Homo sapiens: one gene and its partner. The protein of the gene in region 1 interacts with the protein of each later gene in a pairwise test. Each region holds a gene or a part of one and is shown on either strand. Other genes may lie near its edges.

The links. The genes of interacting proteins can lie anywhere in the genome.
Region 2: the proteins of JRK (region 1) and ZNF629 interact in binary tests that used the Homo sapiens proteins (3 or more experiments, as listed by UniProt).

What each region holds. Positions count from the first base shown.
Region 1 is NC_000008.11:142,659,964-142,666,981, reverse strand, and holds part of JRK (jerky protein homolog), read left to right. Parts: intron 1-461; 5' UTR 462-923; coding exon 924-2,630; 3' UTR 2,631-7,018. UniProt on the Homo sapiens protein: May bind DNA.
Region 2 is NC_000016.10:30,784,197-30,792,061, reverse strand, and holds the start of ZNF629 (zinc finger protein 629), read left to right. Parts: upstream 1-4,856; 5' UTR 4,857-5,034; intron 5,035-7,546; 5' UTR 7,547-7,579; coding exon 7,580-7,652; intron 7,653-7,788; coding exon of another isoform or gene 7,789-7,807; coding exon 7,808-7,865. UniProt on the Homo sapiens protein: May be involved in transcriptional regulation.

The DNA.
Region 1 (7,018 bases):
TGCCTCTGCTCCTCAGGGAGGAATAAGGGATTTGAGAAGCTCAGGTAGCCCAGCGAGCAGTTACAGCAAGAAGCTTAGGCTGGGCGGGTGGGAGGTTTGTTCTTGGGTCCGCCCAGCATCGGACTTCCTGGCTTCCTCTGATGGCTTCTGCCTGAGCGCTTCCCCAGGAAAGGCCGGGCTGCTCCTATGAGAGCCACGTCTCGTTTCCAGCCCTAGCGAATGGCTTCAGTTTGCTTGGTGGGAGTTGGGCAGAGTCCACCTGAGCAGCACGTGCAGGGGCTGGGCAGGCTGGGCTGCTCCCGGGGCCACCCTCTCCCCACAGTGCATGCCAGCACTTGCATGGGTCCTCTCAACAGCCCTTGAGTTTCAGCTGGAGTGTCCCGGTGAGGAGAGTCGTGAGGACGCCATGTGTGTCCTGGGCGCGCCCCATCACTTTCCTCTCTGTTCCCTCTGCTTTCCAGCCCCTGAAGTGCTGTGCCTGGAGATACCATTGTGGACCCTGGAGAGGCACCTGCTGCTTATGCGGTAAAACCTCTACCACCCCAAACCTGGTCAGTTTGAGGGGAGCCGCTGCCATAGTATCCACAGAGAAGGCCGGAGTTCCAGCCGTGTGGAGCAGCAGAGGGGAGTCTGACAGGGTCACCTCCTCCACAGAGAGAATTGGCAGCTGACTGCACTGCCAGGAGCCAAGGCCTAGGTGTGTGGAGCCTGGAAGACCAGGGATACCTGAGGCAGGAGGTGCAGCGTGTGGAGTGAGAAACCCGAGAGGGACTGGGGCCTGTGCTCAGGATCAGCAGAGCAGGCAGGCAGAGTGGAGAGGGAGAGACGGAGCCCCAGAAGGGGAGCAGGAGGAGAGGGAAGTAGTGGCAGCAGCCCAGGCCAGGCGTGTGTCCTGCAAGTGCTAGGACCAGCCACCCCTCCCCATGGCCTCCAAGCCGGCTGCCGGGAAGAGCAGAGGGGAGAAGCGGAAGAGGGTGGTGCTGACACTGAAGGAGAAGATTGACATCTGCACGCGCCTGGAGAAGGGCGAGAGCCGGAAGGCACTGATGCAGGAGTACAATGTGGGCATGTCCACCCTCTACGACATCAGGGCCCACAAGGCGCAGCTGCTCCGGTTCTTCGCCAGCTCCGACTCCAACAAGGCGCTGGAGCAGCGGCGCACGCTGCACACGCCCAAGCTGGAGCACCTGGACCGCGTCCTGTACGAGTGGTTCCTGGGGAAGCGCTCCGAGGGCGTCCCCGTGTCAGGCCCCATGCTCATCGAGAAGGCCAAGGACTTCTACGAGCAGATGCAGCTCACTGAGCCCTGCGTGTTCTCCGGAGGGTGGCTTTGGCGCTTTAAGGCCAGACACGGCATTAAAAAGCTAGATGCATCCAGTGAAAAGCAGTCAGCCGACCACCAGGCCGCGGAGCAGTTCTGTGCGTTTTTCAGGAGCTTGGCTGCTGAGCACGGGCTGTCCGCCGAGCAGGTTTACAACGCTGATGAGACCGGCCTTTTCTGGCGGTGCCTGCCAAATCCCACTCCGGAAGGCGGGGCTGTGCCTGGCCCCAAGCAGGGCAAGGACCGGCTGACCGTGCTGATGTGTGCCAACGCCACGGGCTCCCACAGGCTCAAGCCCTTGGCCATCGGGAAGTGCAGCGGTCCCAGGGCTTTCAAAGGCATCCAGCACCTGCCCGTCGCCTATAAGGCCCAGGGGAACGCCTGGGTGGACAAGGAGATTTTTTCCGATTGGTTCCATCATATCTTTGTGCCCTCGGTGAGAGAGCACTTCAGAACCATAGGTTTGCCGGAAGACAGCAAAGCCGTTCTCTTGCTGGACAGCTCCCGGGCTCACCCGCAGGAGGCCGAGCTGGTGTCCAGTAACGTTTTCACCATCTTCCTGCCTGCCAGCGTGGCCTCATTGGTGCAGCCCATGGAGCAGGGCATTCGGAGAGATTTCATGAGGAACTTCATTAACCCTCCGGTCCCCCTGCAGGGCCCCCACGCCCGCTACAACATGAACGATGCCATATTCAGCGTGGCCTGTGCCTGGAACGCAGTCCCTAGCCACGTCTTCAGGCGGGCCTGGAGGAAGCTGTGGCCGTCGGTTGCGTTTGCCGAAGGCTCCTCCTCTGAGGAGGAGTTGGAGGCAGAGTGCTTCCCAGTGAAGCCCCACAACAAGTCCTTTGCACACATCCTGGAGCTTGTGAAGGAAGGCTCCTCCTGCCCGGGCCAGCTTCGCCAGCGCCAGGCCGCCAGCTGGGGGGTAGCGGGAAGGGAGGCAGAAGGGGGACGGCCCCCTGCTGCCACGTCGCCAGCAGAGGTTGTGTGGAGTTCAGAAAAGACTCCGAAAGCTGACCAGGACGGCAGAGGAGATCCTGGTGAGGGCGAGGAGGTGGCCTGGGAGCAGGCGGCCGTGGCCTTTGACGCAGTCCTGCGCTTTGCGGAGCGGCAGCCATGCTTCAGTGCGCAGGAAGTGGGGCAGCTGCGGGCGCTGCGTGCCGTGTTCCGGAGCCAGCAGCAGGTGAGGAGGCGGCGTGGTGCCCTCGGGGCTGTGGTCAAGGTTGAAGCCCTCCAGGAGGGCCCTGGTGGCTGTGGGGCCACAGCTCAGTCTCCCTTGCCCTGCTCATCCACAGCAGGTGACAACTGATGGCTTCTCTGCCCTGCCCTGGCCACTGGCCCTGTTTCTCCCCACACCCTGGAGTGGCATGGTCCTGTGCCCCGACCCCACCTGAGGCAGGAGGGCATGTGCAGACACTCAAGAGCCCTTCCAGGAGTGGGTCGCCCACGGGTGTGGCTCGGGTGCCCAGGACGGTCTGTGCCCGAGGTTCCTGTCAATACAGGTTTTATTTTATCACTTGCCGTGTCATCCGAAAGTGAGGAAATGTTTTGGAAGGGTCCACCCTAGCCTAGAACAAGCCAGAGCCGCACCCTGGCTGGAATGGGGGCCAGGCTGAGCCGATCTGGTCTCGTGTTCGCTGGCTGATCATTGCAGTATCAGAGGGTGGAGATGTCAGTCTGTCCACGTGGAGAGAAGTTGCCCTCCAGGCCGACAGGAGGCCATGCCCACCGCCCCTGGACAGGCTTCGTCTCAGAAGGCTCTATCTGCTGGGCTGGCGGCCATCCCCGTGTTGGGTGGACCCCGAGCACGGTTGCCTGAGGTCCGATGGCCCGAGAGCTGGGACTCAGTTCTTGGCCTGCTAGCGGCTGAACAGGCCGCACATCTCACTTCAGTTGTGGCCTCATTCAGCAGAATGACTCTGGAACCATCCTCTGTTACCCGCAGATCCTGTCCCATGGGCTCTGGCCCCAAGATGTTGGGGGGCCCCACGGAGAGTTGACTTGGTAGAGTTCCTTTCTGGGAAGAAAGTAGGAGTGGCTGACCAGGCCCTGCTCATCACCCGGATAGAGGACACGGACCCTGTGTGGTATTTTGGCATTTTGGCTCAGAGTCCAATGTACCATGTTGCCCAGAATTTCATACTTATGGCCTTTACATGAATACGTCTTGATCAGACATTCAGAGATTAGTCTTAGGTTTGCACGTAAGTCACTGAAAACAGTAAAACAGGCTGCTTAGATTTCTAGCAGTATGTGTGCTCTTATCCCCAGCTGTTAGCACGTTAGTAATACTTTTGGGGAGGAGTTGTCTGTCCTGGTCAGTTTTCACAGAGGCGGTTGTAAGAGGATGTGGTTATTTTCTCCATGTCTGTAGTTGCTTTGCGGCATCTCCATTTCACGGGCAACACTCACTGCCTGCAGCTGAGATTCCAGAACGCCCTGTGTCCACAGTGATTAGCCTCGTCTTTCAGCGAGCATAAAATAGGTGCATTGTCCTTTTCTTTTCTTGAGGCAGGGTCTCACTCTGTTGACCAGGCTGGAGTGAAGTGGTGTGATCCCAGCTCACTGCAGCCTCGACCTCCCTGGCTTGAGTGATCCTCCCGCCCCAGCCTCCTGAGTAGCTGGGACTAGAGGCACGCACCACCGCGCCTTTTTATTTTTTTTGTAGAGACAGGGTCTCACTGTGTTGCCCAGGCTGGTCTTGAACTCTTGGCCTCAAGCGATCCTCCTTCCTCATCCTTCTAAAGTGCTGGGATTACAGGTGTGAGCCACAGCACTCGGCCTAAATAGGTTTTTCTTGCTATGTTATTTTCAGTGCTTTGCCCTTGAATTCTTTTCCTCTCTTAAATTCATATCATTTGGCCGAGTCAGCACGTAGTTTGCATTCCAGCGTCTGCTGTTGATTCCACTGAAACCTCTGTTCTCATGAAGGAGAGGATTTGGCTCGCTGTGGTTTCTCGTACTTTCACATCTCTGTAGATACAGGGGCAAAAGTCATTGCTGACAGAGCCCTATCTATGTCCTGGAAGTGTGTGTTTCTTGCTTTGAATGCATGTGTGAAGATTATAAAAGCCAAATAGTTTTTAAAGATCTCGGTGCTGAACGACAGTCCCAGTTCCCATTTGTGTCCCATTGTCTTTGTGGTGTCACCCGCACTGTTTGCTTCATTGTCTGGGGAACTTCTGCACATCATGTACTTTGTGCCATTTCTGGGCTCACGTGTCACTCCTAATAGAGCCTCTTAACCAAGACTGCTGGATTGCAGCTGCTTGAGGCAACACAGGAGGTTAGAACATGTCCCGAGGGCTCTGAAACAGTAGGACATCCTGGGTGGGTGGAGCTGGGGAGGGCATGGGCAGGCCAGCTGGCCGAGCTCCTGGCTGGCTCTCCTGAGTCCTCTGGACATGGCTTGTCCCTGTCAGACTGTAGCTCTTCAGGACCTGAGCTCTTCCCGTTCTTGATCTGCTCTTGTGCTGACTGTGCTGGGCTGATGGGTAGGCGCTTGTCCCCAGTGAGTGGCTGTGTCCTCAGGGTGCCCCTCTTCCAGACCAACTGCAGCAAGGCCTGGAGCCTGACTCTAGGTGCAGCCCTTGTGGCTGGAATCCCTTGTGCCACCCAGGGGACTCGGGCCCTGCTCCTCCTGCAGCCCCTCCTCACCTGGGCTCGCTGCTGGAGTGAGGTTTTTAGGGAGCCCAGAGCGTACTCATCTCTGAGCTGCTGGGCCCAGCTGCCTGGTGCATACCTCTTGCCTCGGTCCTGTCCCCCAGAACGCTTTATGGAGACTGCCGTGTCCTCCGAGCACTTTGTTTTCACTTCCTGACCCGTCTCAGAAGCTCAAGTGGTTGAATGTTTTAGCCTCAGAATCTTTTTCCCCAAGCCCTCTCAGGTGGAGCCCCGCTGTACCAGACACCACAGCACAGCTCTGTGAGGCTGTGTCTCTTCACTCTGTTTCTGGGGCTGCTGAGGCCCCTGGGAAGCCCTGGAGCTTGCCAGAGCAGAGCGAGAAAGTCTCTGGTCCTGTTTAAATGCCTCCGCGTTTTATCTGTGAGCACCAGGCTGGAGCCACTCCCTGTCTTCTCACAGTGCCCCTGCAAGTTGCAGCCTCAGTTTTCCAGTGGCTCGTGGGGTAGCAGGTGCTGCGTCATATGGTTTGGGACCTCTGTGGCTGCTTCCAGCCTGCTAATAGAACCTCTTTCCACCACTGCCTTCATCTTTGGGGTGGCACCCCTGAGTGCTCAGGCCTGAGGGCGCTCCTGTGTCCTCACTCGGGACAGGCAGCCTCCACTCTGGGAGCTCCCATCCCTCGGGATGCCCAGGAGAGGCCATACTTTCAGGGTGGCATGGTGAATTCAGGGGTTAGGATGGGTAGGTGGTCTTTCAGCCCCTTCTACGTTGGGGTTGGTTTACAGAACACCTGTCCTGCCTGTGCCAGCCTGGCCTTCTGCGAGCACCCCAGGCACGCTGTCCTGGAAGTTGTCTGTCTCCTGCATAGGAGGGTCTAGAGCAGACCTTGCCCTGGGCCTGTCTGTGCGTGACTTCCATATGCTTCATTCGTGCTCAGCCATGGCTGAGCATGCGATGGAGAGCACCTGGACTGCCCCTGACGTCGCAGGCCACTGTTCTTATCCAGTGGGCCAAGTGATTGATTGCTAGTGGTGGAGTTGATTGGAAGAAAGGAAGTCGCAGCCCCTGCCCACGGCTTCCCCAGCTCGCTGGGGTTGGAGGACTGTCATCAGTTGTCCCCAGTTAAAGTCCATTTGGAGGAGGTTCAGGGTCCCAGTGGCTGGATGTGCTTGTGGAGGGACACGGTTTGAGGCAGGGGTTTGCAGAAGGTGTAGACTGCATCCATTCTTGGGAGGCTGTGGCACAGGGCAGCGACAACTTGGGACAAATCAAGACCCGTCCACACTGCACCTCAGGGACCTCACCTCACGCCCCACATAAATGTGCTTATTGGGGATCCGGGTGTGGTGGCTTCTGCCTGAAATCCCAGTACTCTGGAAGGCCACGGCAGGAGGATCACTTTAGTTCAGGAGTTTGAAACCAGCCTGGGCAACATAGGGAGACCCCATCTCTACAGAAAGTAAAAGAAAATGAGCCAGGTGTGGTGGCATGTGCCTGTAACCCCAGCTACTCAGGAGGCCGAGGCGGGAGGATCCCCAAGCCCAGGAGTTTGAGGCTGCAGTGAGTTATGGCCTCTGCACTCCAGCCTGGGTGACAGAGTGAGAGACCTAATCTCTAAAAACAAAAAATAACAAAATGTGCTTTGGGGTCAGGTGTGGAGATCAGGGTCGGGGAGGTCATGAGGTAGGTAGGGGTCAGGATGTGGACAGTCATGGGCTGGTGGGTGTGGCAGCCGTGAGGGGTGGGTGGTGGCCTGGGAGGCAGGGCCTGGGCAGGGCTTCTGCACTTCTGCTGCTTACCCAGCCCCCTCTGGGTTCGAGGACTCTCCTTGACAAGGGCTGAGCTCTCGGGCACTGCGTTGGACTCAGCTGCCTACTGGGAGGCTGGGGAGAATGGACCTGTGAGACCTTGTTTGTCCTCTTCCCTGCCCAGCTCTTGTAGACCCCAGGCCTGGCTGTCCGCAGGGCCAGGAGCTGCAGCCATGGCAGCCACCAGCCTCCCACATGAGCCCCAGCTCCCAGCCCCACACGCCCACTCCTTTGCCCATGTGGTGTCAGCTCTGGCCTCTGCTTC
Region 2 (7,865 bases), on another chromosome or scaffold:
TGCCCTGCCCTTCCCAGCTCCTCTCTCCAACTCTGAGGGAGAAGACGGAGGGACTGAGAGGCTCACCCTTGGGTCCCAGACACGCTTGGGCCCATCTGAGCAGGAGAGACGTGTTTAGGATCCACGGTGGCTCTGAAGTCACCGTGCGTGGATTTAAATCCACTCCTGCCACTGGTGACCTGTGTGCAAGTGACTTACCCTTTCTGTCCCAGGATGATAATAATAATGGTGCCATGAGTTGTGGAGGTTTAAGGAGTCATTACATGCAAACACAGTGCCTAGTGCATAAGTGCTCAATAAATGTAACTATGTCAGCAGGCACCATCCTCATGTGTTACTCTGGAGCTGGGCGTGGTGGCTTATGCCCATCATCTCAGCACTTTGCGGGGTGAAGATGGGAGGACTGCTTGAATCCAGGAGTTTGAGACCAGCCTGGGCAATATAGTGAGATCCTATTTCTATAAAAATATTTAAAAAATTATTCAGGAAGAAGTTTTGTGAGGAACAAAAAAATTTTAAATTAAGTTAGCCAGGCATGGTGGCACGCACCTGTAGCTTCAGCTACTTGAGAGGCTAAGGTGGGAGGATTGCTTGAGCGTAGAAATTCAAGGCTGCTGTGAGCTATGATCGTGCCACTGCACTCCAGCCTGGGTGACAGCAAGACACTGTCTCTAAAAATAAAAAATTACTCTGAACCTTGGAGACACAGACTAAGGGGTCCAGAATCTATACCTACAGTTAAACGGGAGTTGGAACATCAGCAGTGAAGGACCATTCATATAATGAAGCCACCTTGGCCTCAGGGTTGGGGACACAGAGGAATGACAGGGATGGTGACCAGCTGGCAGGTCAGTGCCCTGTAAAGACGCAAGCTGCCCAGCAACAGCCAGTTACTGACATGTGAAAATGTGGATCACGTTGCCACATCTTTGGATTTTCCAAAGAAGCAGGAAATTCAGGCCAGGCGCGGTGGCTCAGGCCTGTAATCCCAGCACTTTGGGAGGCTGAGGTGGGCAGATCACAGCGTCAGGAGATTGAGACCATCCTGGCTAACACAGTGAAACCCTGTCTCTACTAAAAATACAAAAAAATTAGCTGGTTGTGGTGGTAGGCGCCTGCAGTCCCAGGTACTCAGAAGACTGAGGCAGGAGAATGGTGTGAACCCGGGAGGCAGAGCTTGCAGTGAGCCAAGATTGCACCACTGCACTCTAGCCTGGGTGACAGTGCGAGACTCTGTCTCAATCAATCAATCAATCAATAAAGAAGCAAGAAATTCAATTTTTAATTTTTTTTTCTTTTTGAGATAGAGTCTTACTATGTCACCCAGGGTGGAGTGCAGTGGCATGATCTCAGCTGACTGCAACCTCTACCAACTGGGTTCAAGCAATTCTCATGCCTCAGCCTCCAGAGTAGCTAGGACTACAGGTGCATGCCACTATGTCCAGTCTCACTCTGTCACCCAGGCTGGAGTGCAGTAGTGCGATCTCTGCTCACTGCAACCTCCACCTCCCGGGTTCAAGCAATTCTCCTGCCTCAGCCTCCTGAGTAGCTGGGATTACAGGTGTGCGCCACTATGCCCAACTAATTTTTGTATTTTTAGTAGAGACGGGGTTTCACCATGTTGGTCAGACTGGTCTCGAACTCCTGACCTCGTGATCCGCCTGCCTCAGCAACCCAAAGTGCTGGGATTACAGGCGTGAGCCACTGCGCCCAGCCAGCCCCAGCTAATTTTTGTATTTTTAGTAGAGATGGGGTTTCACCATGTTGGCCAGGCTGGTCTTGAACTCCTGACTTCAGGTAATCCTCCCGCCTCAGCCTCCCAAAGTGCTGGGATTACAGGCATGAGCCACCATGCCAGGCAATTTTTAATGTGTGTTTTTTGTTGTTGTTGTTGTTGTTTGTTTTTTGAGACAGAGTCTTGCTCTGTCGCCCAGGCTGGAGTGCAGTGGCACGATCTCGGCTCACTGCAAGCTCCGTCTCCCAGGTTCACGCCATTCTCCTGCCTCAGCCTCCCAAGTAGCTGGGACTACAGGCGCCTGCCACCATGCCCGGCTAATTTTTTGTATTTTTAGTAGAGACTGGATTTCACCGTGTTAGCCAGGATGGTCTTGATCTCCTGACCTCATGATCCGCCTGCCTCGGCCTCCCAAAGTTCTGGGATTACAGGCGTGAGTCACTGCGCCCGGCCTAATTTTTTTTAAAATTATTATTATTATTATTTTGAGACTGAGTCTTGCTCTTGTTGCCCAGGCTGGAGTGCAGTGGCGCCATCTCGACTCACTGCAACCTCCACCTCCTGGGTTTTAAGTGATTCTCCTGCCTCAGCCTCCTGAGTAACAGGGATTACAGGTGCACGCCACCATGCCCAGCTAATTTTTTGTATTTTTAGTAGAGACAGAGTTTCACCATGTTGGCCAGGCTGGTCTTGAACTCCTGCCCACAAGTGATCTGCCCACCTCAGCCTCCCAAAGTGCTGGGATTACAGGTGTGAGCCACCTCGCCAAACCATCTTTTTTTTTTTTTTTTTTGAGATGAGAGTCTCGCTCTGTCACCCAGGCTGGAGTGCAGTGGCATGATCTCGGCTCACTGCAACCTCCACCTCCCAGGTTCAAGAGATTCACCTGCCTTAGCCTCCCAAGTGGCTGGGACTACAGGTATGTGCCACCACTCCCGGCTAATTTTTTGTATTTTTAGTAGAGACAGGGTTTCACCATGTTAGCCAGGATGATCTCAATCTCCTGACCTCATGATCTGCCCGCCCTGGCCTCCCAAAGTGCTGGGATTACAGGCATAAGCCACCGTGCCCTGCCCGGACTTTTTTTTTTTTTTTTGAGACAGGGTCTCACTCTGCCACCCAGGCTGGAGTGCAGTGGTGCAATCATGGCTCACTACAGCCTCCACCTCCCAGAATTAAGTGATTCTCCTGCCTCAGCCCAAGTAGCTGTGACCATAGCGATGCACCACCACGCCAGGGTAATTGTTTGTTTTTGTTGTTGTTGTTGTCTTTCTTTTTTTTTGAGACCGAGTTTTGGTCTTGTTGCCCAGGCTGGAGTGCAATGGCACGATCTCAGCTCACTGCAATCTCCGCCTCCTAGGTTCAAGCGCTTCTCCTGCCTCAGCGTCCCAAGCAGCTGGGATTACAGGTATGCACCACCACGCTGGGCTAATTTTTGTATTTTAGTAGAGATGGGGCTTCTCCATGTTGGTCAGGCTGGTCTTGAACTCCTGACCTCAGGTGATCCACCCACCTTGGCCTCCCAAAGTGCTGGGATTACAGGCATGAGCCACCGCGCCCTGCCCAGCTAATTGTTTTTAAGTTTTTTGTAGAGACAGGGTTTCACTATGTTGCCCAGCCTTCAAACTCCTGGGCTCAAGTTACCCTTCTGCCTCAGCCTCCCAAAGTGCTGGGATTACAGGCATGAGCCACCAGGCCTGGCCTTTAGCAATTTTTTCTCTTTCCTGTTTTCTCTTTTCCTTCCTTCCTTCCTTCCTTTTCTCTCTTTCTCTCCCTCCCTCCCTCCTTCTTTTTTTTTTTTTTTTTGCGACAGGATCTCACTCTGTCGTCCAGGCTGCAGTGCAGTGGCTCAATCTTGGCTTATTGCAACCTCTGCCTCCCGGGCTCAAGCGATCTGCCTGCCTCGGCCTCACAAAGTGCTGGGATTATAGGCATGAGCCACTGCGCCTGGCTAATTTTTGTATTTTTAGTAGAGACATGGTTTCACCATGTTGTCCAGGCTGGTCTCAAACTCCTGACCTCAAGTGATCCGCCTGCCTTGGTCTCCCAAAGGGTTGGGATTACAGGCGTGAGCCACCGCACCCAGCTGCCTTTAGTAATTTCTGACCTTTGGTTTATTCTTCCCCCCAGCCTCTCAGTCTCTGGACAGAGCCCTCTGCACGCTCCCAGGATTCCTCTGTGTTTGTAACACATACACAATACCAAACTTCCCAAGGGTAGAAAGCCCAATTTCCATGCATCTCAGAGGTATGCCCACCCCAGTGTTAACCACAGTGCCCAGGAATAATAATGCAGTGTGTTGAACTGAAAGAATCAGGTGGCCTTAAGTACACCAGTCGCTTCTCACACCTTGGTTTCCTCCCCGGTGAAATGGGGATGATGGGCAACCTTATCCCATGGGACTGTGATAAGGAAGACAAGAAAGAAAGGCTGTAAAAATTGCGAGCATAGATAACTTGGACGTTGAGAGGCCACCAGTGTTCCTGGGTTTTTAAAGGTTTCTTCTGCTGTGAGCCGGGTGCCCTCTGAGCTATGAGAAAAGAGGTTCTCCCTCCTTGGCCAGGGAACCCCCACTGGCTTCTTTCCTGCCACCGTGAGCCTCAGTTTCCTCCTCTGAGGGGAGGTGTTTGGAGAAGAGGGGCTGGAACACAGGCTATTGCAAATCCTTCCCGGCTGTGCTTGTTCCTGCAGTCCCAACTCCTGCAGCCATGACTTCCATCAAGCATTAAGGCCATGTTTAGTGCGTAGGGTGTTCCCTCTCAGGTCTGCTCTGCCAGCCCCTGCTCCCACCCCAGCCCCATCCCAGGGTTAGTCCAAACAAAGACTGGCCTCAGGGGATCAGCAGCCGCCAAATCTGAGATAGGGCTTTCCGGGCGCGGCCGGCGGAGCCCCTGCGAAATGAAGAGCGGCCAGAAGCCCAGGGACCCTCGCGGGCATCGGGGCTCTCCCAGATGCCCACGCTGCCTGCTCCCACTGGAGACGGGGACAGGGGCGTCGTCCCAGCCTCCTCCCTGCTCCCACCGCTGTCCCCTTTTTTCCCCAGGCTGCGGGAGGCAAAGGGTTAAATCCCATAGAGCTGATGCTCTGACTCCAGGCTAGAGGGGCCCGGGAAGCTGGGGTCACTTCCTGCTCCGTCCCAGTCACCCTGAACTGGTCCCCGGGTCCTCAGCCTGGAATCACCCCTTGAGAAGGACCCCAGAGTCCTCGGCGCCCAGTCCGTCCCCCGAGGCAGGGCACTGAAGGGGTTAAGTCCCCTGGGGCTGGATTCCGCCTTCCGGCTTTTCCCAGACCCCAGAGCCGTGAGTTGGGGACGCCTGGGTTCCCGGGGGGTGGCCTGGAGTGCCCGGGACGGCCGCCGGGGAACAATGGGGCCCGGGAGGCGGGGGCCGGGAGCCCGGGCCTGAGCCCCCCACCCGCGCCCGGGGCTGTGGCCGGGGTGGGGGCGGGCGGGGGGCGCGGAGGGCCGAGGATTCTGGGAAGCGCGGGGGTCGGTGGCGGGGGAGGGGAGCCTGGGGATTCTGGGAAGAGGGATCGGCCGGGGCCGGGGACCAGCGCTGCCAGCGCAGCCCTGGAGGAGCCTGGCAGTGCTGGAAGGAGCCGGGACCCCGGGGGCCGGGGCAGGGGCGGATGCCCAGGCTCTGTATCAGCAGCGGGACGGGGGTCGCGGCTCCGGGGGAGCAGAAGTCCGGAGCCAAGCGGTGGGGGGGCCGGGCCGGGCGGCCGCATTCCCGCCGCCTCCATGTCAGGGTCACCCTGGGCCGTTCCCCACATCTCTCGGGAGGCGGCTCCTCATTCCCTCCCTCTGCAGTGGGGCCATCGCGAGGTCTCAGGCTGGCGTGCCTGGCGCCTGGGCTCCCAGCGCCTCGGCCTCCCTCGGTCTTCCCACGTCCATGCTCTGTGTCGGCCCTGTCATTAACCCTTTCCCTCCTACTCTGGACCACTAGGGGAGAATTTTTTGGAGACCATCGAGGTCCACAAACTCTTACCTGTCCCGAGCAAACACAGCAGGGCATCCTTCCCGGACCGGACATCAGGCAGCCCCCAGTGTGGCAGAGGTCTCCGCTTCCACCACCCCAAAGACACTTACAGGCGGGGAGGGGGGATTCTCGGAGCTTAAGTAGCTGCAGAGATGAAGAAATTAATTTACTTCCTAAACGCTAACTTCTGTCTCTCCTACCGCTCTTTGGCAGGGTGCAGCCAGTCTTGCTTCACCTTGGTCACCTCTCAGCGCCTCCTGCCATGTCTCCCTTGCCCCACTGCCCCTGTGCACACAGCGCCCACCTCACACAGCCATCCAAAGTTTCCAGGCCCCACCCAGGGATTCTCTGCAGGGTGTAAATGGTGTGGGACCTCCTTCAAGCGCTTTGTTCCTGTGGCCCCATTCCCTCATCCTGAACTCATCTCACCATTTTTGGAGTGACAGCTGGCTGTTTTTATTTATTTATTTATTTATTTATTTATTTATTTTACCAGGGGGCCACTTGGAACTCCTGCTCCTTTGCTGCCATCCCCTTGCAAACTGATCTTTAAAGGCATTAGACCAAACAGGTGTTCCAGGGGCTAGGGACATCTCACTCATTCATTCATTCAACAAAGTTTCTGGAGCACCTATTCAGTGCCAGGCTAGGCTTGGGAAACAGCCTCAAGAAAGCAGGACAAAAGGAGTAGAAGGAGGGTCCGGGCAGGAGTGGGGATAGGAGGGCTTTGGTGGGGAGTATGGTTCCAGCTCATGGGTGCAGACCAGCAGGCCTAGTCCCTGGGTCCAACTCCTCCTTTTCTAGCCTGGGAAACCTCTGGGTCCCAGGAATTTCTCCAGCCTATTCTCACTGCCAGCAGGCTCCCCATGAGCTGTCCTCATCACCTGTCTCCTGCCAGCCTCCCATGAGCATGAGTCTCACATGACTCCCAAGGTCACCTCGTGCTCTCAGAGACAGGGGTGAGCCAGATATGGAGCCCTGCTTTTATCATCTTAGCTCTGCCACTTCCCAGCCTTGACCTTGGAGAGGTTTCCCCAGGCATTGATGTACTAATCTGTAAAATGGACAGCCTGATTCCTGGGTCTCCTCACCAGGCTGTGGGAGGACTGGGTGAGAGAAATGACACCATGGCAGGCACTGGGTCTGCCGCAGGTGTTCACACAAGCATCCATCCTCCCCTTCTCCTTACTTTTTCTCTTCCTCTGGGCGGTTCCTGCAGATGCAGCTTTAAACTGCCCCTCTCCCCACCTCCAGCCTGACCCTCTTTCTGTGCTTGGATAACAGGGAAGTGCCCCAGTCCTTTTAGAGGGCCTCTGTCTCCTCTGGGAAACTGGGGTGTTTTTTTTTCTTAACCCTTTAAGTGTCTCAGGCAGCCTCGGTTCACTCTGGGGCACAGAAAAGTTTATTGGTCTCAATTAGCAGCCCCATTAAGAGGAAAATTAGAGTCTTAATGAGCTTCCTCTGATTAGCAAATAACAGGTTTCCCAGCCTCTGGGCATCAGAGGTATGGGGTGAAAAACTCCTTCCCCTGTGGATGTCAGAGACCGCTCCAGCCCCCATCCTGGGTTCAAAGGCTTATGAGTGATGAGTTTTTAATTACGCTCTTAAATTCACCTGCTTGCTTAGCTGTGCGCTTAAGATCTGGAGTGAGAATCAGGCCTGCAGGGGAAGGGGGCCACAGCAAGAACCCGTGCCCAGAAAAATGGGGTGGGAGGACACTGAAGTTCACACAAGGAGGAATGGGGCGGGGCAGGGTGGGAGTGAGGTTCAGGGGGAATAAAGCAAAGTGCAAAATCAGCTCCCAGTGTGCGCTCATCGCTGTCTTCCCCCGCAGGGTCCCTGGAACACTGCAGTCCTGAGCTCTGGGATGGAGCCCGAGACTGCGCTGTGGGGCCCGGATCTGCAGGGTCCGGAACAGAGCCCCAACGATGCTCACAGAGGTGAGGGGCACAAGAAGGGGCTGCGGTCCCGGCAAGACGGTGGTCCCGGCTCAGGGAGGGGCCTGGACTCTGGGGGACACCCGGGGGAGGGAAGAGAGACCAAACCCCGTGTTCTGAAAGGGGCTGGGGGCTGTAGACTCCCTTTCTTTCTGTAGGTGCCGAGAGTGAAAACGAAGAGGAGAGCCCTCGGCAGGAAAGTTCTGGGGAGGAGAT